Homo sapiens: one gene and its partners. The protein of the gene in region 3 purifies or fractionates together with the protein of the main gene of each other region. This does not show direct contact. Each region holds a gene or a part of one and is shown on either strand. Other genes may lie near its edges.

Region 1 (7,108 bases), on a different chromosome or scaffold from region 3:
TCCTGACCTCAGGTGATCTGCCCGCCTCAGCCTCCCAAAGTTCTAGGATTATAGGTGTGAGCCACTGTGCCTGGCCCCTCTTGGATTTTCATATCATCTACATGGTTAATTGAATTTTCAATTCACAGACCTTGTTTTGTTTTGTTTTCATATCCTGTTAATGATGCTTATATGGATCCCAGGGCCAGAGGTCATCAGGATCTCCCCGCAGCAGCGTGGCCAACGTAGCGAGACCTCCATCTCTACAAAAAAACTAAAGAAATTAGCAAGGCATGGTGGTGTGCACCTGTAGTCCCAGCTACTCAGGGAGTTGAGCCCAGGAGGCTGAGGCTATAGTAAGCCATGATGGCACCATTGCACACTCCAGCTTGGGTGACAGAGCAAGACCTTGTCTCTAAAAAAAGAAAAAAAGAAAAAGAAAAAAAAACAAACAAACCAAAAACAAAAAAACCTCCCGGAATTCCATAGCTGTTACTATCAGTAGCAGCTAATGTTTCCTGGCTGGCCTCTTGCCCAGAAGCCACAGTTACCGCTTTTCCTTTGTTGCAACCCTGGCTATGAAACCAGAAATAGTTGTTGCTGGTAGAGACACTGAAATACCTCAAAGTAAAACCCAGAGGTTGGGCCAGGCTGTGGTCAGCTCCGGGGAGACCACAGACTTTGCAGAGGGGCCCAGGGTCCCTGAAGATGGGTGGCAGCCAATGGAGCTGCTGGGGAGGGGGATGGGCAGCCAGCCAGAAGGAGCCTGGAGCCTAGAAGAGGAGGAGATAAAAATCATCACAGTGAGGTGTCTCCAGGGCCGAGCTGAGGCCCTGGCCCAGGAAGTCTCAAGGCTGTAGCGTGGCTCCATCTTTGGGGTCCACAATTTGGATTCAGGTCCTGGCTCTGTCACTTACACAGCTCTGTGTCTCTGGCTAGTTGGTTACCTTCTCTGGTCCCCTGCTTCCTTATCTGTAAACCAGGAGATAAGGTATAGCCACTGCAGAGTGGGTAAGTAAAATGTATCTGCATGTTGCTGATGTAAGAGGCGAAGTTGCCATAAAGTAAAAGTAACCATTTGAAAGTGAACAATTCAGGAGCATTTAGTGCATTCGCAATGCTGCTGACGTAAGAGGTGAAATTAACATAACATAAAAGTAACCATTTTATTTATTTTTATTTTTTTATTATTATTTTTTTGAGACGGAGTCTCGCTCTGTCGCCCAGGCTGGAGTGCAGTGACACGATCTGGGCTCACTGCAAGCTCTCCCTCCCAGGTTCACGGATTCTCCTGCCTCAGCCTCCTGAGTAGCTGGGACTACAGGCGCCTGCCACTATGCCCAGCTAATTTTTTGTATTTTTAGTAGAGATGGGGTTTCTCTGCGTTAGCCAGGATGGTCTCCATCTCCTGACCTCGTGATCAGCCCGCCTCGGCCTCCCAAAGTGCTGGGACTACAGGCGTGAGCCACCGCTCCGGGCAGAAAGTAACCATTTTAAAATGAACAATTCAGGGGTCTTTAGTGTATTCAAAATGTTGCTGATGTAAGAGGTGAAGTTGACATAACACAAAAGTAACCATTTTACTTATTTATTTATTTATTTATTATTTTTGAGACAGAGTCTCACTCTGTCACCCAGGCTGGGGTGCAGTGGCATGATCTCCGCTTCCAGCCTCCACCTCTCAGGTTTTTTGTTTGTTTGTCTGAGACGGAGTCTCACTTTGTTGCCCAGGCTACAGTTCACTGGCGCGGTCTCGGCTCACTGCAACCTCCAGCCCCTGCGTTCAAGCGATTCTCCTGCCTCAGCCTCCTAACTGGGATTACAGGTGCCTGCCACCACACCCGGCTAATTTTTTGTATTTTTAGTAGAGACAGGGTTTCATCATGTGTTGGCCAGGCTGGTCTCGAATTCCTGATCTCGTGATCTGCCCGCCTACACCTCCCAAAGCACTGGGATCACAGGCGTGAGCCAACAAGCCCAGCTGACCTCTCAGGCTTAAGCGATTCTCCCACCTCAGCCTCCTGAGTGGCTGGGATTGCAGGCGCCCGCCACCAAGCCTGGCTAATTTTTGTATTTTTATTTTTAGTAGAGACAGGTTTCACCACGTTGGCCAGGCTGGTCTTGAACTCCTGACCTCAAGTGATCCACCCACTTCGGCCTCCCACAGTGCTGGGATTACAGGTGTGAGCCACTGCACACGGCTGATAGTGAGAAATTTCTAAGCTGAGACAGGCATCACAGGGTGACATTGCCAGAGGCTGTCACCTTATTTACATACGTGCAATTGCATATATGTATGTATACAACATAGACATATTATACATGCATAATACAGGTCTATATGTATGTGTACAATATATAAACATATATACTACATACATACACATAGGTAACATGTATGCATTACACATACGTATAAACATATTATCTACTGTGAGTGTGTATATAATATACACATATATTTTGTGGTGGTTGTTTGTTGCTTTTCCCCCCCACTAGAATACAGGAGGGCAGGGGCCTTGCCCGTCTCCCTCACTTCCACATTTCCAGGGCCCGGTGGGTTCGGAACTCCTTTGGGACTGGCTGCAGGGAGTGGAAGAGTGAAGAGATGACCTTGGTTGGAAGGCTGCCTCGGGAGTCCATCGGAGGGGGCCAACTAAAAATATCACGGATTGAAAAAGTTCTTGGGGTGGATGGTGGGGATGTGAAAGTGCTTAATGCCACTGCAGGGAGTGCTTAAAAATGGTTAAGATGGGCCGGGCGCGGCGGCTCACGCCTGTAATCCCAGCACTTTGGGAGGCCGAGGCGGGCGGATCACGAGGTCAGGAGTTCGAGACCATCCTGGCTAACACGGTGAAACCCCGTCTCTACTAAAAATACAAAAAATTAGCCGGGCGTGGTGGCGGGCGCCTGTAAGTCCCAGCTACCCGGGAGGCTGAGGCAGGAGAATGGCGTGAACCCGGGAGGCGGAGCTTGCAGTGAGCCGAGATCGGGCCACTGTATTCCAGCCTGGGCGACAGAGCGAGACTCTGTCTCAACAACAACAACAACGACAACAACAACAACAACAACAACAACAAAGGTTAAGATGGTAAATTTTATGTTCTATATATTTTACCATAATTTAAAAAAAAAATGACTGGGCCTGGCGCGGTGGCTCACGCCTGTAATCCCAGAGCTCTGGGAGGCTGAGGCAGGAGGATTGCTTGAGTCTAGGGGTTCAAGACCACCCTGGGCAACATAGTGAGACCCCCGTTTCTATTAAAAATTAAAAATTAGCCGGGTGTGGTGGCACCTGTCTGTAGTTCCATCTACTTGGGAGGCTGAGGTGGGAGGATGGCTTGAACCCAGGAGGTCGAGGCTGCAGTGAGCTGTGACTGCACCGCTGCACCCCATCCTGGACGACACGGTGAGATCCTGTCTCTAAAAAAATAAACAAACAAACACACAAAACTACATTGATGCCAAGAACAATTACTGCATGCTCACTATGCATTAGGCATCTTGCTAAGCTCTTTACCCGTGTCATCTCGTTTGTCTCACATACTCCCTGAAAGGTAGGGTCACTAACCTATTATATTTTACGGATTGGCGACAACCTCAGAGAGGTTAAGTCACTTGCCCAAGGTCACACAGCGAGTCTCAAGCCCCAGCCGGTGAGCATCACGATCCTTTGCCAATGAGCCGATGCTCGAGAAAGGGTCGGATAGACAACAGGCACTGCATAAAGGTTGGTTAACGGGATCGTGTTTGGCTGCAACGTGGAGCTCCCGGGTCGAACGGCGAGACAGCTGCGCGTCCCCGAGCCGCCGCGCGCCCGGTCCGCCGGGGCGGAGTCAACGCCGCGGATTGGCTGCTGAGAAAGGGGCGTGGCTCGTGGCGGCCGGTGGGCGGAGTCGATCTCTGGCCGTAAATACGGCGCCACATGGCACTGGCTCGCGAGGGCGGGGGCGGGCGGGCTGGCCGGGCGCAGGCGCGCTGAGGGCGGGCGCCCCTCGGCCTCCGTGGCCCCTCCGGCGGCCGCGACGTCTCGCGAGAAGACGACCGGTAGGAGGGGCTCCTGCGCCGGGGGCGGGGCCGGCGAGGGCTGCCTCTGGGGGGTCCGCTAGTCGCGGGGCGGCGGCGGCGGCTGCGGGCGCGAGGTGAGGGGCGCGAGGTGAGGGTCGCGAGGTGAGGGGCGCGGCGGGCGGCGGGCTCGGGGCGCGGTCTCCCTCTCTCTCGGCCAGTGCTGGGCTCCCAGGGCCCGGGCGGGGGTCCCGGGCCGCGCTGAGGGGCGCGGGTCGGCTCTCCTTAACCTGGCCTGGCGGGCGCGGCTTGGGCCTGGGTTCGAGTTCCCGCGCCGGCGCGCAGTGTGACCTTGGCCCTGCGCGCGCCCTCTCTGAGCCCCGCTCGTCGTCCTCGGCCAGGGGGACCCAGCCCTGGGGCCCTGATCAGCGCGTTCTGCGGCTCCTCGGGGTCTGGACGAGAAATCTGTGGTTCTGATTCAGCGACAGCAGAGGCTGCAGCGGCCCCGCCGGCCCCCAGGAGTCCCCCTGCCCGGCATCAGCCTCTGCCGCCCGGCAGGGGTAGGACCAATTCCCGGGCTTGGAGTTCCAGGATCCCCAGCTCCCGAGGGCCCCCGTGTGCCTGCTGTCACCTGAACGGGGCTCCCCGGCCCCGCCGACCGCAGCCCTGGAGCCTGCAGACGCCAGCAGCACCGGCAGGTCGCTCAGGGTATCCCTTAAATGACCTCTCACTCCAGAAGCCGCAGCCCTGCCCCTCTGGGAGAGGAAACCGTGCATTTAGTCCGGGAACAGTGGGACTTAGACCTCCTCTGCGGGCTCCCGGCCACCGAGACACCGCCGGCAAAGCCTTGGCTCGGGCAGAGGCTCCGTCTGGCAGGCAGCACAACAAGCCATAGTGTTTCCAGCATTATTAAATTATTTAGTTCATAAGCGGGGCTGTGGGGACTCGGAAGCCCCGGGGTGAATAGGAATGTGAGTTGCAGGCGCGGTGCTGGACGCAGTACATCTTCCAGGACACCAGGCCCTACGGTGCTGTTCCCGGCTGTGGGTGGTTGGGGACAGCTCAGCGGGTCCCCCACTTACCCCCACGCGGGGACCCGGGTTAGCCCCTCACCGTGAGCATCTGGTGTTGGGAGTCAGGGCTGGTGTCTGAGTGAGGATGGAGAGAAAACAGGGGTAATGAGGAGATTGCTACACGAAGGTGCAACGCTTGAGATCTGAAAGAGCACCTGCCTGGAATGGCATAGATGTTTGATTTCCCTGCAAAGGAGTTTATGGGACTTTGGGCTGACGCTTTGGGGCCAGCAGTAACTGTCTGCTGTCACTCAGCTGACTCCAGCTTTATTATCAAACCTCCAATCGAGTGCAAGATGCTAAGCTGGGGTAGATGCCGGTAATAGCGTGGGCCTTGCCCTGGGAGCTCACGGCCAGCCTGGCTACAACTGTGTGGAGTTGAGACTGTGGTGCAGGCGTTAACAGAATGTGGCGACATTTTCCGACATTTTCCACAGTGGAGAGGACCTATGAATTGGGGCGTTTGGAGGCAAAGGGCATGCAGAGATGTGGAAGTGAAAGTGATGTTTGGGGGAGATGGTGGGTCGCCGTGTTCTTGATGAAGTGGGGTTTGAGGATTGGGTTGGAAGCTAAGACTGGAAGGCCGGGCGAGGTGGCTCGTGACTGTAATCCCAGCACTTTGGGAGGCAGAGGCGGGCGGATCACCTGAGGTCAGGAGTCCGAGACCAGCCTGGCCAACATGGTGAAACCCCATCTCTACTAAAAATACAAAATTTAGCTGGGCGTGGTGGTGCACACCTGAAGTCCCAGCTACTTAGGAGGATGAGTCAAGAGAATAGCTTGAACCTGGAGGCGGAAGTTGCAGTGAGCCGACACTGGGCCTCTGCACTCCAGCCTGGGCAACAGAGTAAAAAAAAGACTGGAAAGATGGGTTTCTGATTGTGCAGGGGCCTGAATGCTGTGTGAGGGAGTTTAAACTTTTATCCCTTTGGTGGTGGTTTGGGTGCGACGCGATTAGATGTGTTTCAGAAAAGTGGTCGTGGTGAGAATATGGGAGGTGGGTTTTGCCTCTGGGCAGTGGAGCTGAGTTGAGTAGCCTTGTGGGGCGTGGGTCTGGGGCAGTGAGAGAGTGGGGGCGGGCATGGAGCTGAAAGATGTTGCCAAATCCACTGGGCGGTGGCGCTTTGTGAGATGTGGCGACCTGTAACAGCGAGGGCAGCCGGGACTTCTCACCTGCGATGAGGAGCGCTGCGGCCAGGTGGGAGAGGAAGGGCCACACAAACACACGTGGGTTTTAGACCTGCAGAGTTGGCGGTATTGGTGGCCATCCTGGAGGAGATGTGACCTGGTGGAGAAGAGACAGCCTGTACAAGGAGGGAATCCCCAGGAACCCCAGTGGGAAGGGATCCAGAGCTGAAGAGAGGCCCGTTGGTTGGCTGACCTTGGGCGTGCAGTTCCTTGACTACGCACAGTCATTGAGGCTGGCAGGTGATTCTCTTCTAGTGTGGGTCAGGGGCTGAAGGAGCCATCAGTGGGAAAAGACGGGTTATTGATGATACTGAAACACATGCGGCTTGTTTGTCATTTAAAAAAACCGTACATCTTGAGTTTCGATTCTTAAGTTGTCTTTCTTTTCGGAGAGTAGCTGTTAGTTTCACACTTGCTTAGTGGGTCTGTGGCTGCAGGCGGGACTGTGGTTCTCCAGCCCTGGCCCACAGATGTGCCTGGAGATAATTGACTCTCCAACTTATTACTTCCTGCTGTTAAGGTGGTGGTTTCTGTAACTGTTTAGAAACTTTAAAGATATTTCAGAGAAGAATGGGAGACAGGTACAGTTGAGTACGGGGTGGGGGCACAGTTGAGTATGGGGTGGGGGCACAGTTGAGTACGGGGTGGGGGAACAGTTGAGTATGGGGTGGGGGCACAGTTGAGTACGGGGTGGGGGCACAGTTGAGTACGGGGTGGGGGCACAGTTGAGTACGGGGTGGGGGCGCGGTTGAGTATGGGGTGGGGGCGCAGTGCTGAACAGGGCACAGGAGGAGGAAGCGAACAGGGACCCTTTGGCTCCCAGAACATGACCAGCTGGGGCTTTTCCCTGTAGACAGGAGGAT
Region 2 (7,022 bases), on a different chromosome or scaffold from region 3:
GTCTGCCAGTGCTGGTTGTCGTGGGTGAAGCACGTGAGGCCTGGCATGCTGCACGTGTCGTTGTTCTGCAGGCGCTTGAGCAGCTTGCGGAGTTTCTTCTTGCGCTTCTGCTCCCGCAACAGCCACACCTTGTCCTTCTCTTGCAGGCCCTTCCTATGGGCGCAGAGGGCCACACACACCTTGGGCCTCTGAGGGATCAGTGACCCCATGTCTCTGCTCTTCCTGTCCACCTAAGGGCTTCGCTGAGGCTTCTCCAACAGAGAGCCATGGGCATAGCAATTCAGGGTCCCAAGTCCCAGTGCTGCTCCAAGGCAGAGCCGGGACCAGAACCTGGGTCTTGTCATTCTACTTTAACTCCCAAGGGGGCACAAGCTGGGGACAGAACCAGGCAGCTACTGGGACTCCTGTTGACACCCCTTTCCCCTCCTTCCTGTGTCCTGCCCTGCTTGGTGGAGTTGCGGTAACCCCATTTAGCCACAAGGGGGCGTCGGAGGCCCGCTCAGTGTTGATTGGGAAGTAAGGCCTCTTCGAGGGCTACCGTGGACTTCCCAGGGAAGGGCCTGGACTTCTTTCCTTTTCTTCTGAGTTTTAGCTTAAGGGAGGGCCACCTCCTCATGCAGGCCTCTGCATCTCTTCCCCAGGACCTCAAGCTGCTCTTACCTGAAAGGATGCAGACTGGAGCCTCTGTGCTTGAGGCGGCCTTTGTGCTGGGTGTGGTAGCTGTAACAGACCCCCCCAGCCCCAGGCTTCAGGAGTGGCTCAGAGGGCTCCGCTGGCAGGTGCAAGCTGTGATTTCTGGGACTCCCATGTGTTGCTGCTGCCCCACCCCTGTCCCTCCTTCTGGGGTGGTGGTGGGTAGGGCATGACCCTATCCTCAGGGCAGCAGGTGCCTGCCTGAGTGGCTTCTTTCTCCAAGCATGAGCCAGGACTCTGCCTGGACTTTTGCTAGACTTTAGCAGGTTGGGTTAATTGTAATTTAGCCACGACTAGAAGCTGGGCCTGGCTTTAGGTGCATCAGCCTCAGCATCCTTTTTCCTTTCTTTTTTGATGGTTAATTTTACATGTCAAAGCCTCAGCATCTTGAGGTTGGTTCCCTCACCACCCTGCCTACTCACACTTGGTCGGGGTCAACACAGGGAAGCCTGTGTTTTGCAACACTTTCTGGAAAGACAGCAGGGCTTCTACAGCTGTGCTGTCCAGTATGGTAGCCACTGGCCACAGGTGGCTACTTCAATTTGAATTAAGCAAAATAAAAAATTTGGCTCCTTAGTGACACTAGCCAAAATTTTAAGTATGCACCAGCCACGTGTGGTGTAGTGCAGATATAGCCCATTTCCGTCAGCACAGAATGTTCTATTAGAGCTGTTCTAGAGTTCAGTCCTTTGGGCCAGGGGACCCCTAAGCCGGGAACATGGACCTCAAACCACATGGGGGATTTCTGAAAGGGCAATCGGCAGAGGCACTTTTCCGGCCTGGAGCCGGCTCTGCGCAGCCAGCACGGGTCTCTTGCTAGCAGTACTGGAATCTGGGCGCCAGCCTGGCTGAGGAGCAGGTCCGTGTGCCACACTGGCTGACAACAGGGAGGTAAATTACGGATTTTTTTAATGCCATGAGGGGAGAAGATAAAGATAAAAATAAAAAATGAAAGGGGTCAATCACGAGAGGGGATGAACTGAACTGTCCTGTAGGAGAGTGGGGTCTTAGGGAGGTCCCTTTGCTACTGCCTCACCTGATTTTGTGACAGTCACATTCTTCTGGCCGCTTTTTCTTCAGGTGACCTCGGACTTCCCTCAGGTTCTTAATTTTGTTCTGCAGGGTTTCAATCTGAGGGAGGGGCAGAAGAGGAGGCCTTGAAACCTTCAAGGCTGGACAACAAAGACTTGGCCTGGTGACTGCCCCCACGCTGCCGTGTCTGTGCTCAGCAGCGGCAGCCTGCACTCCCCGGGCCCCAGGGCAAGCACCGGCATGTCTGGGTGGGGAGGAGGTACTTGTTCTGCCTGAAGGAAGCCCGCCTTCTCCTCCAGCCAGCCCTTGCAAGGGAACCGAGTCATTTTTCCGGCCTGGCCTGCGCAGGAACCCGCTGAGCCCACTGAGGCCTCCAGTGTCTCCCCTGGGTTTGATGAAAGGCCTCCTGTAGCGTAGACTTCTTGTAAGTCAAAAGGGGGACAACGTGGCTAAGCCATCGTCCCTCAGACGGCCTGGGCAGGAAGCTATCTGTCTCATGCTGGGACTGACACCTATCCCCGCGTTGAGGAATCTGTGGGGACCTCACTTCACCTCTCCAGCCTCTTCCCTGGGTCTGGCCTCACTGCCCTCCCACTGTGAACCGGGGGTCCTGCCAGGCCCGTGGTGGCCGAGAGCATGCTCCTCTCCCGCTCTCCACTCACCTCGTGGTCGATGTGCAGCTTGTGGTCTTTCCAGGCCTGCAGGGACTTGTACAGGTCCAGGTCACACTGGACTGTGTCGTTCTCTAGGATGTAGCACCTGCTTGAGAGAAGGGATCACGTGTGGCTCGGAGGTGGTGGAGGGGGAGCAGCCCAGGTGCCCAAGAGGTGTGGGAAGCCCTTGCCGAGGTCTGTCCTGTCCCCTTCACCCTCGACTTCCACCTGGACACTCACCGATGTGTCACTTTAATGGGGTTGGCGGCTGAATAGTCGGGAAGGCCTCCAGTGCCACTGAAGTCCCCACCATCCTTGTCATCTTGGTCCTCAGGGGCCCAAGAGGTGTGGGAAGCCCTTTGCCGAGGTCTGTCCTGTCCCCTTCACCCTCGACTTCCACCTGGACACTCACCGATGTGTCACTTTAATGGGGTTGGCGGCTGAGTAGTCGGGAAGGCCTCCAGTGCCACTGAAGTCCCCACCATCCTTGTCATCTTGGTCCTCAGGGGCCCCTGGCCAGTGCCGCTTGGTGAGGTTTCGGGGCTGGGCGGCATCACCCAGGCCTACGTGGTACACCCTGCCGTCCACCTCGATGGCCACTGAGCGGATGGAGCGACTGCGGACATAGCTGGCCTTGTACTCTGTGGGCATTAGAGGAGTGGCAGAGTTAGGGAGGCAGGAAAGGCTGGCCAGGCTCCCAGGGCAGTGGGTCCTTCATCAAGATAGGGCCGGGCTTCCAAGCATGAGGCTCAGCTTTGCCTGCGACTCGAGGGGTCGTGGAATCTACCCGCCTGCTCGCAGATCCTGGACCGCAGGGGAGGGCCTCGAGGTGATCACACCGGCAAGACGGAAGTCCTGGAGCCAAGAAGCCACTGACTCAAGAGGATTTCAAGCGAGAGCTGCTTGCGGGTAAACAAATGGCGGTACATCATCTGTACAACGGAATATGCGACCAGAACCAGGAGCGAGGTTCTGATTCACGCTAGAGCGTGGATGAATGTCAAAAGCAGGCGGAGTGAAACCAGCCAGACACAAAGCGGGCTCGTATTGTTACATTCTATTTATAGGAACTACCCAGAATAGGTAAATCTATAGCGGCAGAAAGAAGATTGGTGATTGCCAGGGGCTGGGGGAGAGGGTAGTGAGGAGTGACTGCTTTGTGGGTACGGGGTTCCCTTTTGGGGTGATGAAATGTTTTGGAACTAGGTAGAGGTGTGCAACACTGTGAACCTATTAAATGCCTCTGCATTGTATATAATTGTAAAAATGGTGAGTTTGATGTTATCTGAACTTCACCTCAATTAAAAAGGAAAAAAAGTATCATGGATGTAAAAATGTTGATTTAAACTGGGAAAAAGGGGCCCTGCAGTGCCTGTCTCTGGGTAGAAATGGACGGGGACTGGGGAAGCCACTTAGCTTCTTTGAGTCCCAGAGAGCTGGAGGCTGCCCACCAGGTGGTAGGCAGGTGCTACACCCAGGTGGGCCGGCAACAAGGCTGAGGGGGGCTTTTGCATACGCCCTGACGCTGAAAACTCAGGGGTGCAGGCTGAAGTGACACCCCAGGTAGCCTGTATCTTCTATGTCTCAAAAACAAATCTGAGTTGGTAACATTAAAGAAAAAGGGGAGGTGGTGGCGGTGATGTAGGGATCCAGATTTCCAGCTTCCAGAAAGGAAACAGATGTCTCACGGGCCCACAGTTCCATATGGTCAGGACGGGCCGGGGATGGGCGGCCCCTTTGGCTGCCCACTGTCTTCCCTGTTGGCCACAGCCCCCGCCACTCCTTCCTGTTTTAAAACCTCTGCCCACCTGACACATGTCTGGCCCCAGCAGGCACGCACTGCAGTTGTCATCCTTCTCCAGATGTGCCTCATTTAAAGAGAAGGGCCTGGAGCCAGTTAGTGACCCAGGTTTTGTTGGATCCCAAGTGACCCCGAGATGGTGACCAAAGAGGACCAGCTGGAGGCAGGTGGTGGCGGAAGGCAGTGGAAGGAGGGAGGAAAGGGCTCCCTTCTCACGTGGCCCGGGTGCCACCCCCACTCTTGGGGGATGTTTTGTATCTTTCAGTTCTCAGACACCTTGCATCAGAGTCACAAGGGCCGAAGGATCCTGAGGGGCCGGGAAAGGCCTCCCCTCTCCAGCAGAGCCTTGGGCCTTTTCTGACACAGGGCAGCCTTCTCCTGGGCACTTCTCTCCCTCGGTTTAGTCTCCCGATGCAAGTACACAAATTGCCGAGGATGGTCCCTGTGCCAAGCAGGTCCTGCCCCGAGAGGCTCAGGAAATAGACCCAGCGTGTCCTCTCCACTCCTTTTGTCTCAGTCGGCTCATAAGTGAGCTGCTTTGCCTCTTTCCACCCTCCATCTCCCAGCTCTAGATTCAGGGGTCCCTAAACCATGGCCTAAGGGCCCAGGCCAGCCTCCATCTGTCTTTGTGAATACAGTTTCACTGGGTACAGCTGCTCGCATTCCCTTATACCTCTGCAGTCGCAGGGCTGAGTTGCAAAGCCCAAGACCTTTACTCTCTGGCTCTTCACAGAAGCGGTATGCCAGCCCTGTGTGAATCCTTTCCTGGACTGAAGCCACACTACCTGCTCTCCCCATCACTCTGTGTTCATGTCCAGAGTCCTGGAGGTACCCTTCCTGCCACACCAACAGGGAATGGGACAGGACTTCATAACCCGGCGGCCAAGAGCTTTGACTCTGCAATCAGATGGCTCAGGTGCAAACCCCTGAGCACATGTGTGGCCCCGGCGATTTGGGTAACTTCTCAGGATGGTGCCTACCCTACAAAGGCTCCTTGGAGGATGGCACGAAACGGAACTAGTGAAGCATTCATGCCTGATGAGCTGGTGTGGACCAGCTACTGCAGGGGGTGGGGACTCTGCCTGCAGCTGACGTCCTCACCTAAGGTGACAACCCTGGGCCCACTCCCTGCCTCTCCACGCCGGTGACCGCCTGTGTGATGTGGCTGCCCATGCCCATGGTGCTTCTCACCACCCTCGGCCACACCGGTCACCTCTCTGTGACTGGGACTCACCGCCCTGATTCTGAGCACAGGGTCTTTGTACTCCATCTTCCTCCTCCTCAGAACACTTGCTCTCTGGCTGGTCACAAGACCTGCTCCTTTCTGTACTTTGTTCTCATTAAATGTCCATTGAGCGCCATTCTGGAGCCGCCACCCCTCTCTGCTAGTCCCGCCACCGCTGCGTCTCCTTCATGCGTTTTTCACCAGCGGAAGTGGCCCTTTGTTCACTTGTTCACATCTTGTTTCATCCATGAGGTCCAAGTCCGTGTCTCTCCAGGTCAACTCTAATCTCAGTGTCTTGCACAAAGTTCAAGAAATGAATGAACCCCAGTCAGCTGGGCCCATCCCCCGAGTCCTCGTCCCCTTCTCCTGTTCCTGGGTCCCCCTTCTGCTGTGAGCTGGCTGGCTCTGCCTAACCTCCCCACGCCACAGCCAGGATCCCCGTGGATCAAGGTGGGCCAGGGCTTCCCAACCTTACCACTGCGGACACTTTGGGGTCAGATCAAACTCTGTGGTGGGGGCCGTCCTGTGCGTTGCAAGATGTTTTGCCGCATCCATAGCCTCTGCTCACTAGACGCCAGCAGCACCCCTCCATCACACACAATTGTGACAGCCAAAACTGTCTCCAAACATTGCCAAGTGTCCCCTGGGGGACAGAAAGCCCCCAGTTCAGCCTGCTCTAGGCTGACTGCTCAGAAAAGAGGGACAGAGTGTCTTGTCGGAGACTCTAGCAGGGGGAAGAATGCCAGGCAGGAGATGGGGCTGGAGTCCCCAAATCAGCCACGTGACCCAGTCTTTCCTGTCCATCATCCCCTGATGATCACCCCTGCCCTGCTCACAGGGCTGTTGAGAGGTGCAGGTCCCGGCTCTGACATTACACTCACATGAGGATTCTGACCAGGGCTGAGCTGACTCTCAGCTACTTTTAGGTATTTTTCTTTCCTCTAAGCATTAATAAGGGGAAAAGAGCTGAATTTCTCCCTGCCAGATCTTGTATTATTTAAAGATTATCGACTGTGCCACATATTGAAGCAAGGAGATGCTGGCTGTGTAATCCAATCTGGAAACCAATCATTCTGTTCAGCTAGAAAAGTTAATGTAGTAGTTCCTAATCAGCTGGTGAGGAAATGTAACGGAGGGTCATCAGCTGGGAAACGGTGTTTCAGGCAGTGGCTGGGCTGTTATGGAGAGAGACTTATCTGCTCCACGATGAAGACATTTGCTGCCTGGCTGGCTGGACCAGAGGAGATCACTGCGCCTGCCGTCAGAGACCTCAATCTCTAACTAGTCTGTGGTACAATATCATCCGTCTTATAAAGAATGGAGACTTTTTGTTTTTTTTGAGACAGTCTTGCTCTGTCACCCAGGCTGGAGTGAAGTGGCATGATCTCAGTTCACTGCAACCTCCCGCTCCCAGGTTCAAGCCATTCTAGTGCCTCAGCCTCCTGAGTAGCAGGGACTACAGGCGCCCACCACCATGCCTGGCTAATTTTTGTATTTTTAGTAGACACGGGTTTCACCTTGTTGGCCAGACTGGTCTCGAACTTCTGAGCTCAGGCAATCCGCCTGCCTTGGCCTCCCGAAATGCTGGGATTACAGGCGTGAGCCACTGTGCCCGATC
Region 3 (7,022 bases):
ATTGTTTGGGCGCCTGGCCGGGAGCCAGGCCCGCCCGACAAAGGCCGCGCTGTAATCTACTCGGGGCGCTGCGCCGGCCGAGGTGTGGTGGGAGAGAGCGGCGGGGGCGGGACGGGGGCGCGGGGCCCCTCCGGGACGGACCACTCTGCGCGCCGGGGGCCCCGGGCCCGCCGCCGCTGCCGCTGTCCGCCTGGGCCGCGCCCCGAGAGGCGCCCCGGGGCTGGCCTCTCCCGGCCCCGCTCCGCGGCCCGGCTTTCTTCTCTCCCCCACCCCCACCCACCGCGTCCAAAGAAAAAGGAGTCGGGGAGAGCCAGAGGCCACCCCTCCGGCTGGCTGGAGTGTGCGCGCCCCCGGCGGCCGCGGCCGCCGCGCTGGGGAGGGCCGGGGGCGGGCGCAGCGCGGGGCTGCGGAGGCGGCGGCGTGTGTGGTCCTGTTTTTGGACAGCTTTCAACTCTGAGGGAAAAAAACATTTGTCTCAAGGTACAAAAAACGCGGGGTGGGGGTGGAAGGAGTGGAAAAAAAAATAGTAAGGCACAGACTGGAACGCATGTTTGCAAAGTAGATTAATGTTTCCTCGCGGGTGGGGGCTTTTTACATGGAATTATTCTGGGGGAAGGCTGCATTTTGCAGGCAAAGAAAAGAAATGTTTTAAGAACGCGGGGTTGAAGGGACCTCTCAGAGGGGTTCTGCCAGTCTTTTATCCACGTTCCTCAGTTTTGGGGTTCTTGAGACCTTAGCAAAGCAGTTGCAGATTTAAAATAGATATATATTTTTTCGAAGACAAACATTTTTACATTATTTTGGTGACAAAGGTTTCAATTTTTTTCCCCCGCTGGTTTCTTATTTATCTTTTTGGCAAGTTCCAAATCCTGCTATTTGGAAACACTTTAACCCTAAACACCACTTTGGGCATCCCTTACCTTACAAGAGGGTAGTAGGGGAGGGTAGAGGTGACTAGGTAGATAATTCAAACCAAAATACCTGGAGCATTCCTCCGGACAGCATGTGGAAGCTGAAGAGTTATGCGCATAATCGCTTCAGTGATCCCTTTCAGGATGCTGTTGGAGACCTTGAAGAATATTTCCTTAATCTCTCCTTGTTTGTGAAGATTCAGCTTGCAGAGTTTTGCAAGCCTGGGGTGGAGTTGGAGTATTTAGTTGAGAAGTGACAATTAAAATAATAGTCTACATAATTAAGACAAAACATTCCTGCCTTAAGTAGTTTGGTAATTAATACAAAAGCGTTCTTTGGATTGAATCCATGGAGTAATTTACCTCAGTTCAGCGATTCAGTATCACTGGTAGATAAAAGAAGGGTTTTATCGAGCAGCTATTATGCTCCTAGCAACAAGTTTCTTGAGCACCTATGATGTCCCTAGCACTGTGTTAAGCACCATAAGAGACTCAAGTGTGTGCGACACTGCACAATTTAAAACTATTAGAATTCGATGCATTTGGACTACATTTGGGTTCACAGCTGAAATGGGCTGTGAAAGTTACAAGAGGGTGGTAGGGGGTGGGGGGAGAGAACTGGAGACGGTAGGGGAAGGAGGGCATTTTAGGCATGGGCGGGACACCAGCAGGGGCCCCAGCTGAGGAGTTTGGAAGTGATGTGATTGGCTAGACTGTAGGGGCGCTGCCGTAGATTCTAGGACAGAATAGGGCATGAGGACAGGGAGGGCCGCTGCCGTAGATTCTTGGACAGAATAGGGCATGAGCACAGGGAGGGCCGGCTCATCCACCACTTGATCCAACCTGTATTTGTTGCCATCGGATGAGGATGACAAAACGTGATTTTGTGGTGTTCTTAGCAAGAGTTTTCAGTGGACCTTTGACATGTTGAAGGAGATAGAATGTGATTTATTTTCTTAACATTGCATATTTCTGGAAATAACTTGCTTTCTGCATAACACGACCCATTTCAAGTCCTGGAAGGAGATGCAGTGTGCTTCCTAGCAGTTTTATGGGAGCTGCCAGTTGTGTAGTGAGAGGGAGTAAAGTTTTTCTTTTTCAATGGACTGGATGAGGACACTTCTGAGGGGCACACTCACTTTGCTTACTTTTGGCAGTTTCAGCATGACTCACTGGTCTTGGGCCAAATGTTATTTACTCAGTACTAATACTGTCACTTGTTGAGCAACTGCCATGTACCAGGCATTTGTTATATATTATCGCATGCCTTACGATTCAATAAAATAGCTATTATTATCTTTTTTTTTTTTTTTTTTTTTTTTTTTTTTTTTTTTTTTTTTGAGACGGAGTCTCGCTCTGTCGCCCAGGCCAGACTGCGGACTGCAGTGGCGCAATCTCGGCTCACTGCAAGCTCCACTTCCTGGGTTCACGCCATTCTCCTGCCTCAGCCTCCCGAGTAGCTGGGACTACAGGCGCCCGCCACCGCGCCCGGCTAATTTTTTGTATTTTTAGTAGAGACGGGGTTTCACCTTGTTAGCCAGGATGGTCTCGATCTCCTGACCTCATGATCCACCCGCCTCGGCCTCCCAAAGTGCTGGGATTACAGGCGTGAGCCACCGCGCCCGGCCCTATTTTGTTTTTATAACATGATAGTGGATGTAATGTCTTTATGATGAGGATTGTCCCATTTTACAGATGGGAAACTATGGGTTGTCTGTTTGTCTCCAGGTCTACTTTGCCTACTAATGACATAAGTCACTTGTTCTGTTGCCCTGTCCTTGATCTCTCATTCATTCATTCATTCATTCATTCTGTGCTAGATTCTCCCCCTAGAGAAGAAGCGACAGTTTCATAAATGCAGATAGACCCAACTAGAGAGGTGACTATACAACAGTAGCCATATAGATTTAATTTCATTTTCAAAGCAGAAGTGATTGTGTAGAGATCTTGTTTGTGACAGAGTGAGCTGAGTGTTCACGTCAGCAGTAAGTAGTGTGAGCATTTGCATTCAGGAGTAAGATTTCCCTGCTGTCCTATACCTCAGTGGACGTCCGTGAATTGAAGTGAGTAATAGCTCCACATTTAAGTTCATTTTGTGCATCAGTCTCATAGATAAATTCCTCATCACTATCAGCAAAGAAATCTGTTAGATGCTGCTTTCTTGGTAGGTTGTTCTTAAGGTTCTAGACATGAATTTTTATATGAACTGGGCATCAACAGAGTGCTTGCTACACAAACGAAATGGATAGAGGTAGCATATTGCCCTAGTTAGAAAACAACAGAAGAGAGGAAAGTATGAGATTTTAAGGGGAGAGGGATGCTGAGGGATAGTTTGGAAGAAGCTCCTTCTCCTGCGGTTTAAAATCACAGGAGCGTGTGTGTGTATGCACATTGTCTTATTCTGCATATCCTCCTATCTGCCAAAGGCATGTTAATGTTATCTTTTTAATACAGCCAGCAAATTAAAGGGATCCACTCGAAAGGCTGTGTCTTCAAATTGACTTTCATGCTTTGTTTAACATGCTGGGGAAATGTGGCTTTATAAAGAGTTGGCTTTATAAAGAGGGCAGAATACATCAGCCACAATGTGCAGACTAATATATGCTAGATGAGAAAGAGTCCGTGTGTGTGCATGCGCGTGTGTGTGCGTGTGTAGGAATTGGTGATAAGAATTATTGTATTCTGTTGTTAAAATGTCCATATAATGATTGCCTTTTAATAAACTGTCAATTATATGTTAAGATACCAGCTTGAGTTTTAGGGTTATAGTGTTTGCTAATCAAAATTGTCAAATCAGTTTCACATATGTGCGGAGTAATGAGGTTTGATAGAGAATATGTTGACTGATGTAGTGGACATCTGCTGTTGCAGAAACACATGACCATGGCAGCAAGGTGGGGGAGAAACTAATTGTCATTGTATAAAAATAGAAGCGTTCATTCTGCACATGTTCTCAGTACCTACTCTGCACCACCATTGCAGAAAGCTCTCCAGAGAGATGTTGGTGAAAAGCCACAGTCTCTGCCCTCAGGGGAACTCCATCCAAACATTCAGCAGGTACACGGACTGGTGTGTGGGTAGTTAACATGAAGGACAGCAGTGCCAAGATGGCAGGAAAATCGGGGACATCTTCCAGGATGGCCTCAAGGGTGGAGGCCTGAGCTAGGCACAGGGGCTGGAGGGGAGAGGGTAGGGGGCATTCAGGGCAGAAGGAACAGCATAGGCAAAGGCTCAGAGAACAGGAATGTGGCCTCCTGGAGGGCAGCCTCCCTTTGTGGGTCGTTGAGGTTGGGTGGGAGCCTGGAAGCTGGGCTCGTCCCTCAGGGCCATTTCACAGAAGTCTCCCTGCTTGGCTGGGGGCTGTCAGCTCTTCCTACTAGCCATCCCTGTCTCACGAGTGTGCTCACGTGTTGGCCTCTAGTGTTTTCCCTGGAGCCACGAATGCTTCACCTGGATCTCACCTTTCTGGGCACAGACTGGTGTTATTTTTAATCTTGCCTGTTTCTTTGTTGGTATTTCCTTTTTGTTAAGCAGTTTTAACCCATCTCCCTCAGTATCTATTTCTTTTCATATCAGCCCCCTCACTGCAGCCCTCCCTCAGAACAAGTTTCTTGTCAAGCTTCTCCAGCGATAGAACATTCATTTATTTCTTTGAGCTTTTTGTTTTTTCTAAAAGCTTGCCCAGCTCCTGGCCTCCTTTTCTGCAGAGGGCAGCAGCCTTGTAATGAATCCATATTGCTTTGGTGTTTGGATGTTAACATTGCTGCAGGCCAGCGTCAAGGAAGAAGGAGGCAAGTTGTGACTTTGACTTTTTTTTTTTTTTAAGAAAAATAGAAGAAATTGTTTTTTAAAATACATGCTTGGTATGTGTAAGTGCTTTCAAGTTTGTACCTTGCTAGTGTTAATGCTTTCAGTGTTCTTGAACTCAGGCAATCAGTTGTAGGAGATAACTGAGTTTCACCACTCCTTCAATTTGGAGCAAGGTCCCTCAACCTCAGGACTATTGACATTGGGGCTGGATCATCCTCTGTTGTTGGGGGCTGTTCTGTGCACTATAAGATGTTTAGCAGCATCCTGGTTTCTACCTACTAGATGCCAGTAGCACCCTCCCAGTTGTGACAACCAGAATGTTTCCAGTCATTGCCAGATGTCACTGGGGGAGAGGGTGTCCCAAATCATCACGATTGAGACCCACTGGTTTAGATGATAAAAAGATTTTGATTGGAAGACTCATGCTGTGCAGATGGAAGACGTTTATTATGATGGAGTTGTGGCTACAATGCATTGCAGAGATGCAAGAGTATTAATCTTCTTTAAGATAACTCCCCCATCCCATTCCTGTATTTATAGACCCAGATAACTATTTTTCTTAGAATGACATTAAATGTCAAAGAAAAACACCGTGATGGGTCGAAAGAGGAAAGAGGCCATGGAAGAAAGAAATAATTTATATTTGGGTACCTTTTGGTGGGGGGTATCTAAATTTGCAGAAAGACTGGTTGCACCTCAACCCCAGTAGCCTGAAGGTTTTTAGCATGGTTGACTTTCTGAAAAGCTTTAATAGAAGACACCACTGCCTTTGTGCATATTGAAATAACAGCTCCTTCAGAAGCCCGGCTAGTGTGTGAACTCCTTGGTGGTCTCATTCTCCTCCAGATGTTTCTGTCACAAACCACTCCCCCTTGTCCCCCCAGGAGCCCTTGTGGAGCAGAACCAAGGGACAGCAAGGGACCAGTCCCAGCCAGAAGGGCAGAATGGATTCTGCTGTCACTGCCCTTCCACAGTGAGCACCTGGTTTCTTTTCTCTGGGGTTGCCATTGTGGGGGCATTTCACAAGGGACAGGAAGAAAAATGCAGCTCCTTTCTGCTCCCTGGACCCCCATACATGGTTTAGAAGGGAGAATATGTTTATAGGTATTTATTAGTTTCTACTACTGGGTATGCACATTTAGGTGGAAGCAGTTGTGATATTTCTTTCATATTTGGAGAAAAACGATTGGAAATGAGAAGCCACCAATGATTGTTTAAAAAAGAACAAATAGCCCTCAGGTGTCTTCTACACAGGGCAGTTGACCCTGCGAATCCTCCCTATCTCTTTGCTGTCTGCCATTCTTGACCCTTCACCAAGTTGAGAGGACAGGTTGGGTAATGGGGTGTTTCAGATACATAGGATGCCGCTCAGAGGTTCCAGAAGATGACAGCTTCCAGATGTATGAACAGCCTGATCCGTGTGTTTAGATTATGCACCACAGCTGATGCCGAGATTAATGCTGGCTGGACAAGCCATGGGAGATTTGTCTGGTTTCCACAATGCCATGTTTATGTTTCATTTGAGTTTCTCCTTCAAAGCTGACCTGCCTGTGACCCTGGGCTCTGTCCACTCGGGCAAGCTGAAACTCGGGCAAGCTGAAACTCGTCTGCCCTGTTCTCCTGCTTGTATTGGGGTAGGGGAGAGTCACAATTGGGCGGAGAAAGGGGCGCTTTGGTGGCCGCCTTCTGCCTCACCATGCCAGCTATCTGCCCAGATTTAGCCCCTGATGAGTGTTCAGTTCTCCTCGGGGATGTGTTTCACTGTAAAAGGTTTTTTGGCTTTTAAAACAAATATGGAAATATTATAAAATAACTGTAAAGGGGACCAGATTTAATAGAAGCCACTTTGCATAAATGTAGTATTTTAACTTCTGGCACTCTTTTGACACTATTTAGGGGGAGAAAAAGTTGAGGGAATTTCAGCTATGTCAGACACCCCCACATAATAACCATGGCTGTGTCATCCTATTATAATACTATTAATGTTTCCTGTGCCCCTCGCTGGCTCCCAGAACCTCTGCTGCCTCCTCCCTCTCTCCCCTGCCCCCTTCCCTCCTGCCCCTTCTCCCGCCCACCCACTCTAACCTGCCCACGTCATTTCCTTCCAAGTGGATCTCTGCAGTTACTAGTGTGAACTCTGAAATGGTAGTAAGTCTGGCTAATCACAACCTAAGAGGAGGGAATGAGAACATTTATTATTTCAAGCCAGCTGTGGGAGATACTAGATACAGAGCTGCCATTTGCATCCTTGGCATTCTTATTTTGGTTAGGGTTGGTTCCAAGACCACACTCTTTGATGGG
Region 4 (7,903 bases), on a different chromosome or scaffold from region 3:
ATCAGCCAGGTCACTTGCAGATTTTGGACCCAAACAAATGGTGAGACATAACAAATGATCATTGTTGTTTTATGCCACTAAGTTTTGGGGTGATTTTTTATGCAGCAGTAGATAACTAATATGGGATGATAATATTCATTATCTGATGTTACATAATCAGATTTGAAAACCTAGTGGCTCAAAAATAACTAAAATCATTGATTATTTATTGTGGTTTCTGTGGGTCAAAAATTTAGATAAAGCACAACAGGGACAGATTAACTTTGCTGTGATGTTCAGGGTATCAGCTAAGGTGGCTTGAAAGCTATGGGCTTGTATTAGTCTGTTCTTGCACCTCTATAAAGAACTACCTGAGACTGGGTAATGTATGAAGAAAAGAGGCCTAATTGACTCACAGTTCTGCAGGCCGTACAGGAAGCACGGCTGGGGAGGCCTCAGGAAACTTACAATCATAATGGAAAGTGAAGGGGGAGCAAGCACATATTCACATGGTGACAGGAGAGAGAGCTTGCAAAGCAGGAAGTGCCACACACTTTTAAACCATCAGGTCTCGTGAGATCTCACTCACTATCATGAGAACAGCAAGGGGGAAATCTGCCCCCATGATCCAATTACCTCCAACCTGGTCCTTCTCACAACATTGGGGACTGCAATTCACCCTGAGATTTAGGCGGGGACACAGAGCCAAACCATATCAGGGCTGGAGTCATCTGAGGGCTCATTCGCTCATATATCTGGCAATATATATTGGTTGTCAGTTGAAAGCCTAGCTGGGGCTGCTGGCTGGTATACCCATTGTTATGGACTGAATGGTATCCCCCTGCCCTCGAATTCATATGCGGAAGCCCAAACCTTCAATACGTCAGAACATGACTGTACTTGGAGATATGGCCTTTGAGAGGTAATTGGGTTAAAATGAGGTGATTAGGCTCATTTTTGGGTTAGGCCATAATCCAATCTGACTGGTATACTCATAAGAAGAGGAGATTGGGACACACAAGAGACACCAAGGATGGGCATCCATAGGGAAAAGGCATGTGGGGGCTCAGTAAGAAGGCGGCCATCCTCAAGCTATGGAGAGAGGCCTCAGAAGACACCAACCCTGCTGACACCTCGATCTTGGACTTCCAACCTCCAGAACGGTGAGAAGTAAATCTCTGTTTTTTAAGCTGCCCAGTCTGAAATTTTGGTATGGCAGCTCTAACACATTAATACACTCATGCAGGTCCTATCCATGTAACCTGAGCTTCCTCACAACATGGTGAATCTGTTCCCAAGGCAACCAGAGAGAGACAGAGAGAGGATGTACCACTTTTATGACCCAGTTTCAGAAGTCACATAGCATCACTTCTGACATTTTCTGTTCATTGAAGTGAGTTACTAAGTTATGCCCATATTTGAGGGAAGGGAACTAGACTCCCCCTTTCAAAGGAAAAATAGTCAAATAATTTGCAGACATATTTAAAAACCATCCCAATCTTTACCATCACCACCATGTTCATCATGCAGATTTTAAGATCCTAGCAGGCCAGCCAGGTGGAGGTGTGTATGCCCCAAGCAACTTGGATTGGGAATGTGGATCTGGAATTCAGGGCTAGAGATGTGGGTTTGGAAGGCATCCACACAGAGAAATAGAAAGGGAATATGACCCCAGACAAAGGGAGAGGGCTTGGACTTGAGGAATGCCTAACTCAGCTTGGCATGCATGAATATGGATTTAAAATGCTGGGAAAGACCTCAAAAAGCCAGCTACCTAAGCCACCTTGGATATTTAATAAAAAGAAATGTACTAGTTTTTTCCAGTCTACTAAAGCTTCCTACCAGCAATGCTCCACAGCCAGAATAGTTTTCAAAACATGATGGACTCAAAGATGATCAGTGTCTGCAAACTGGGTCCTAGGTGACTTACAGGCCATCCTGTTAGATCCTATCCAGGAGATTCAGCTTTGGCCAGAACCCAATCCCTGTCCACCTCCAGCAAGGGGCTGCTCTCTTGGACTGTTAGGTGCCTCTTTCTATCAGTGACTATGACTGGCTATCTTATAGAGACCCATAAACTCAACATAGGAGCTTTTTAAAACTTAGAAGTTTTTTAAACAACTTATATTTAAAATAACAAAACAATATATGTTCACTTCAGAATAAATTCATACAGGTAACCAGCAAGATGACAATAAAAAAACACCCATAGTCTTACCACCCTGGGTCATGGCTCATTGAAATTTTGCTGATATCCTTCTGTGCTCTGTGCTGTTACTGTGCACAAATATATTCTTTTTAAAAATGGGATCTTATGGAATATTTTATACTTTTTTCATTAAATATGATATAATGTGAAATGTCTTCCACTCTATTAAGTAAATACTATTTTGCAGCATCTTTTCAATGATTTCTGAGATGATCTGTGATTTTACTTAATCCTGCATGACTGAGGAATTAAGCAGTTTCCAAATTTGTTTTTTTTCCTACTTTTTATCTTGAAATAATTATAGATTTGTGAAAATCTATAATAAGATAGTACAGAGAGGAATCTCTTCATCCAGTTTCCCCCAATGGTTACATTGTACGTAATTATAATACAATATAAAAATCAGGAATTTAACCTTGATAGAAAGTTTGTGTGTAGTTTTAGTCATTTTATCACATGTGTAGATTTGTGTAACCACTACCACAATCAAGACAAAGAACTATTTCATCAGTACAAAGGCTTCCCTTCTGTTACCCTTATATATTCACACCTACACCCTGTCTTCAACCTCTGACAACCACTAATATTTTCTCCATCTCTATAGTTTTGTCATTTCAAGAATGTTATACAAATGGCAACCAGAGTATGTAACCTTTTGAGACTGACTTTTTTTCACCCAGCATAATGCCCAAGTTGTGGCATGTGTCAATTGTGCCTTTCTATTGTTGAATGATATTCTTTATATAGATGTAATCACAGTTTATTTAACCATTCACCTATCGAGGGGCATTTTGTTTGTTGACAGTTTTTGACAATTACAAATAAAGAAAGTAGGAACAATTGTGTACAAGTTTGTGTGTTAACATAAGTTTCCATTTCTCTGGAATAGATGCTCAGGAGTGTGATTGATGAGTCATATGGGAAGCATATGTTTAGTTTTTTAAAAGAAACTACCATGATATACCCATCTGTGAGTAATATATGAGAGATCCAGTTCTGTGCATACTCACCAGCATTTGCTATTTTATTTTTTAAGCTGTTTTGTAGTTGTTGTTGTTGTTTGTTTGTTTTTGAGATGGAGTCTTGCTCTGTAGCCCAGACTGGAGTGCAGTGGCGCGATCTCGGTTCACTGCAACCTCCGCCTCCTGGGTTCAAGTGATTCTCCCCTGCCTCAGCCTCCTGAGTAGCCGGGTTTACAGACGCGCACCAACACATCCAGCTAATTTTTGTATTTTTAGTAGAGACGAGGTTTCACCATGTTGGCCAGGCTGGTCTTGAACTCCTGACCTCGTGATTCGCCAGCCATGGCCTCCCAAAGTGCTGGCATTACAGGCATGAGCCACCGCGCCCTGCCTTTTTAAGCTGTTTTAAATAGGTGTATGGTGATATCTCAGCATAGTCTTAATTTGCATTTCCTTTATGGCTAGTGATGAACATCTGTCCTTATTTGCCATCTGTATAACTACTTTGGTAAAATATATATTAATGTCTTCTGTATATTTAAAAACTTATGATCCAGGATACAGTTTATCTTAATATATATACCAAGGTTGCTTGAAAAGAATGTGTATTCTGTTGGTGGGTGAAGTATTATGTAAATATCAATTAGATTAGGATGGTATTAGTGTTGATCTTTTCTATATCCTTGCTGACTTTCTGTCTAGTGTTCTATCAGTTGTTGAGAGAGGGATGCTGAAGTTTCCAATTACAGTTGCAGAGTTGTCTATTTCTAATTATGGTTCTATCATTTGATTTATTTATGTTAAGGCTATGTCGTTAGGTGTATCCACATTTAGAATTATGTCTTCTTGGTGAATTGAACCTTTTATCATTATATAATTATCCCTTTTTTATTCTTGGTAATTTTCCTTGCTGTCAATTCTACTCTCTCTGAAAGTAATATCACCACTTCAGCCTTTCAGTTTATTATCATCTAAACAACACTATTCAGCCTTTGCAGTCATCCACAATTATTAGAATTTCTTGGTTAGAGGCTTTTGACTACATGTTTTTAAAGGTTTTTGGCTGTATTGACAAATTGCCCTGCAAAAATTTACCAACTTAATACCTTAACATTTGGGCTAATTTAAAATAATCATAAATTAAAGTCAGGGCTTTCCCAATTTGATAGGTAGAAATCTTATAACTCTATGGAGGTGGAGTTGGTGGTGGTAGGTGCATCTCTAGATGACTTAAGTTCAAAAAAAGTCAAGAGATCTAAAAAAGAAGTCAAAAGATCTAAAATTCATAACTCAAGAAATAGGGGCATATGTATATTCGGAGAATCCGCGGGAATGCCAGATGCCACAGCCATAAGTAGCTGCCCTTGAGGACTGGACAGCCAGGACTGGACGGTGGGATAAGGTGACAGCTGGTTAATGGAATGGTGCCGCAGAGGACTGGTGCTTTTGTAAGTTCTCTGTAGCATTACAATTTTTAAAAGCATGTAAACGTATTAATTACCTTGACTTTACAATGACATTTGGTTGTTGGTTAAACTTGCATTTAAATTTATTATCAGAACTGCCATAACTGTGTAATCCTAACACTAAGTAAAACTCAGCCTCTCGGCGCAAATTATCACTCCCAACATTCCGCAGGCTGGTGGCGGCGCGGGCTGTCCTCGTACGCAAAACTACACCTCCCAGGATTCCGCGAGCCAAGGTTGTGGCCGGGGCCAGGGCAACCGAACTCGCGGCTCTGCGCAGGCGCACAGGCTCCGCGCCGGGCTCGCCCGCCGGGCAGGCGCACGGCGGACACCTGCGAGCCTGGAGGTGGCGGTCGCTGCGAACCCGGCGGCGCGGCCAAACCTGTGCTGGCTGCCTGGGCCTTCTGGGCCTCCTGGGCCAGAAGCTGGCGCTGGGGGCGGCGGCGGGGTGGGAAAGCGGCGCCGCCGTGGGGCCTCCTGGACGCGTCGGCGGAGGTGGCTTCGTCCCGCGGAGTCCAGGCTTCAGGTAAGACGCGCGCGCGCTTGGGGCTGGAGCGGACTCCGACACCCGCCTGGGACTTGAAGTGGAGGTGTCGAACCCTCGGCCCCCTGGAGGGGACGACGCGGTGCTGGGCCCCGGGGTGAGGGGGAGGTTCTAGGACGCCTTCGGGATCCAGGAGAGTTTGCAGAACTGAGGGGTGACGTGTGAAGCGAGCTGAGGGAGGCGCGGGAGGTGGGCGGGGCGGGGGTGGACCCTCAGGGTCGGGGGCCGGGGATTGGGGGTCGGGGGCCGGGGGCCGGGGACCTGGGCAACGCCCTGGGGCTTGCCAGTTCGAGCCCTCAGCTCGTGGCAGGCACTGGCGTCGGGTCCTCAGGCCCTTTTGCTTTGGGAGGTGATGGGTGGTGCACATTTGGCGGGGGTGGTGGGGAGCCACGCGAGGTGCGCGGAGCGGGCCTGGGCCTCCCCAACTGCCTTTGAAGGCAGAACCCCGGCAGGCCTGCAGCTGATTCCTGGGCGCTTTGGGGGCCAGTAGGGCACCTACCATGTGTGTCCGGTGGTAAGAGCTTGCCACGGCCTGCTTGGCAGTGCCAGAGTAGCCTCTGAAGAAGGAACCCAGTGAACTCCTGACTCCATGTGTGTGTTTAGGAACCCGTCTCCAGCTCACTGATGGGAACTCTCTGCTAAAGTATGTGACCGTCAGGCCAGAGTCTTGCACCAGGTGCAGGGCGACCAGTGTCTGCCTACTTTATTGCCAGCCAACACTTAGAGCGTACTCTTGGGAGAAGCAAGGCTCCGCGTGGAAAAGGATGACTTCAGGGTTATGGGGCGAGCTTGATAGGACTTAGTAGCTAAGAGCATAGACAGAGGAGGTTTCATTCACCAAATGTTTACTACAATATGTGCCCCGCCTTCAAATCTTGGTTCTCGGCTACTAGCGGTGTGCGTTTAAGCAAGTCACTTATCCTCTCTTAGCCTCTGTTTCTTTCTCTGTGAAGTGGAGATGAAAGTACAGTGCCTTTATCACGGGGTTGCAGTGGGGATGAAATAGTGCCAGGCAAGTCCTCAGCCCAGTATGTCTAACAGTAAGTGTGTGGCAAATATCAGCAGTCGTGGTGACTAACGACAGAAAGTGTTAGAGGTGCTTGGAGTCCAGGTTCATCTTTAATGGTACTAGCTGCCCTCTCTGGCTCTCATGAATCTTGCAGATCTTCCAGCTCATCCTTTCAATATTAATTTTGAGGAATCTCAGTCCCTGCAGAGCTAGGAAAGAGCATAGGTCCCCTCATCCCCAGGGGTGGTCAGCACGTTCCTTCCTGAGCCTTGGGCCCCTGCGAGAACGAGAAGGAGAGTGGAGATCTTCAGCAGAAAGGAGGGCATGGTGCTGGTGGCTGGGCCCACCGTGGCCATGTAAGCATGCTAGTTGGCAAGTTCTTGCTCTGAGCCTTGCTTTAGAAAATATTTAGCAATAAACAAAGCCTTCTAGTAAATATTGCACTAACTAGAAAATTAGATTACCAAATCCCCCATTCCAAGGGTCCTTGCCAATCTCAGCTTGGTTGTCAGTGGGATACTTTCCCCCCAGGACCTACCAATCACGTGATTCCCAGGGTTTCTTAAATTGGATGAAATAATGAATGTGAAAGGTGGAACCTGCAAATGTCATCACGGGCTTTGGAGTCCGTCTTGGTTTTGAATCCTAACCCCTCTACTTAATTGCTGTGTATCACTGGGCAATTCACTTAATGCCTCTAAGCATACCTTCTTAAATGTGAAATTGAATTAATAGCATTTACTTCAGGTAGTGGGGAATAAATGAGATAATGCGTGTAAAACAGTTAGCACTGTGCCTGGCTGAGAGTGAAAGCCAGTGAACAGGAGTTATTTTACCATTACGATTAATAATAATATTAGAAAAATAATTGTCAGACATGGTGTTTTGCCTTTGCTGTCTCTTTGAATTCACAAAACTACCCTGTGAAGTAGGTATAATTGTGTTTTTCAAGCCAGGAAGTGAAGGCTTGGAGAGGTAAAGAATTGGCCTAAGGTCACTTAGCTGCTAAGTGACAGGGATGGGAATTCATATCCTGGCATCTCCAGCTCCAGAACTGGTGCCATGTAATTCTCCTTCTCTGCTGCCCATCGTCCTTGCTGTTCTTGCATTCTTGAAGCCCAGTTATGACCTGGGGCAGCCTCCAGTCTTGCAGCAGGGAGTCTTCCCGCACCAAGTGGGTCAGAGGCAGGACCCTGCAGCCTGGCTGTGTGTTTCCTCTCTGTGGCTGGTGTTGGATGCATGGTGAAGCTGTAGGGGACAGTCCCTGAGTGAGTTCAGGGGAGGAGGTGTTAGGAAGAGGCAGCCCAGGCAAGCCCTGTCGCCTCTTTAGGGTCTCATCACTGGACAGCAGGGCTGGGTGAGGGGGCAGTGCTGGGTGAGGGTGCAGGCTGGGTGGGATCTGGGAAGCTTGTGTATGAGAAGAAATGCCTTCGTTTAGCTCCTGGGAAATGTTCTGGGGCTGCATAATTCTCTGAGCCTTATCTTTGCTTTGTGAGGGAGAGCAGCCCTTGAGCTGTGGATAAGGGAGGAGAAGGAGCCCTGGACTGAGAGCCAACATTCTGCCATTTTAATCCTGGCTGCCTGTGAGAGCTCACACTGCCTCTCCAGACCTCTTTTATGAAATAAAGAGTTGGAGGAAATCATTTCTAAGGGTTCTTGTAGCTCTAAAGGGCAGTGGTTTTGTAATTCTAAATTGATGGCCTAACCCTCTCAGCACAGTACCAGGGCACATGG

What was found.
Region 1: the proteins of PTCH1 (region 3) and CHST12 purify together in Homo sapiens (affinity purification with mass spectrometry; 3 studies listed by BioGRID and IntAct, with this or other methods). This does not show direct contact.
Region 2: the proteins of PTCH1 (region 3) and SULF2 purify together in Homo sapiens (affinity purification with mass spectrometry; 3 studies listed by BioGRID and IntAct, with this or other methods). This does not show direct contact.
Region 4: the proteins of PTCH1 (region 3) and POMGNT2 purify together in Homo sapiens (affinity purification with mass spectrometry; 3 studies listed by BioGRID and IntAct, with this or other methods). This does not show direct contact.

What each region holds. Positions count from the first base shown.
Region 1 is NC_000007.14:2,399,525-2,406,632, forward strand, and holds the start of CHST12 (carbohydrate sulfotransferase 12), read left to right. Parts: upstream 1-4,086; 5' UTR 4,087-4,149; exon of another isoform or gene 4,150-5,506; coding exon of another isoform or gene 5,507-5,576; intron 5,577-7,108. UniProt on the Homo sapiens protein: Catalyzes the transfer of sulfate to position 4 of the N-acetylgalactosamine (GalNAc) residue of chondroitin and desulfated dermatan sulfate.
Region 2 is NC_000020.11:47,663,470-47,670,491, forward strand, and holds part of SULF2 (extracellular sulfatase Sulf-2 isoform a precursor), read right to left. Parts: intron 3,020-7,022; coding exon 2,791-3,019; intron 2,689-2,790; coding exon of another isoform or gene 2,619-2,688; intron 2,488-2,618; coding exon of another isoform or gene 2,485-2,487; coding exon 2,388-2,484; intron 1,825-2,387; coding exon 1,730-1,824; intron 721-1,729; coding exon 661-720; intron 154-660; coding exon 1-153. UniProt on the Homo sapiens protein: Exhibits arylsulfatase activity and highly specific endoglucosamine-6-sulfatase activity. It can remove sulfate from the C-6 position of glucosamine within specific subregions of intact heparin.
Region 3 is NC_000009.12:95,499,252-95,506,273, reverse strand, and holds part of PTCH1 (protein patched homolog 1), read left to right. Parts: intron 1-7,022.
Region 4 is NC_000003.12:43,103,075-43,110,977, reverse strand, and holds the start of POMGNT2 (protein O-linked-mannose beta-1,4-N-acetylglucosaminyltransferase 2), read left to right. Parts: upstream 1-4,898; 5' UTR 4,899-5,142; intron 5,143-7,903. UniProt on the Homo sapiens protein: O-linked mannose beta-1,4-N-acetylglucosaminyltransferase that transfers UDP-N-acetyl-D-glucosamine to the 4-position of the mannose to generate N-acetyl-D-glucosamine-beta-1,4-O-D-mannosylprotein.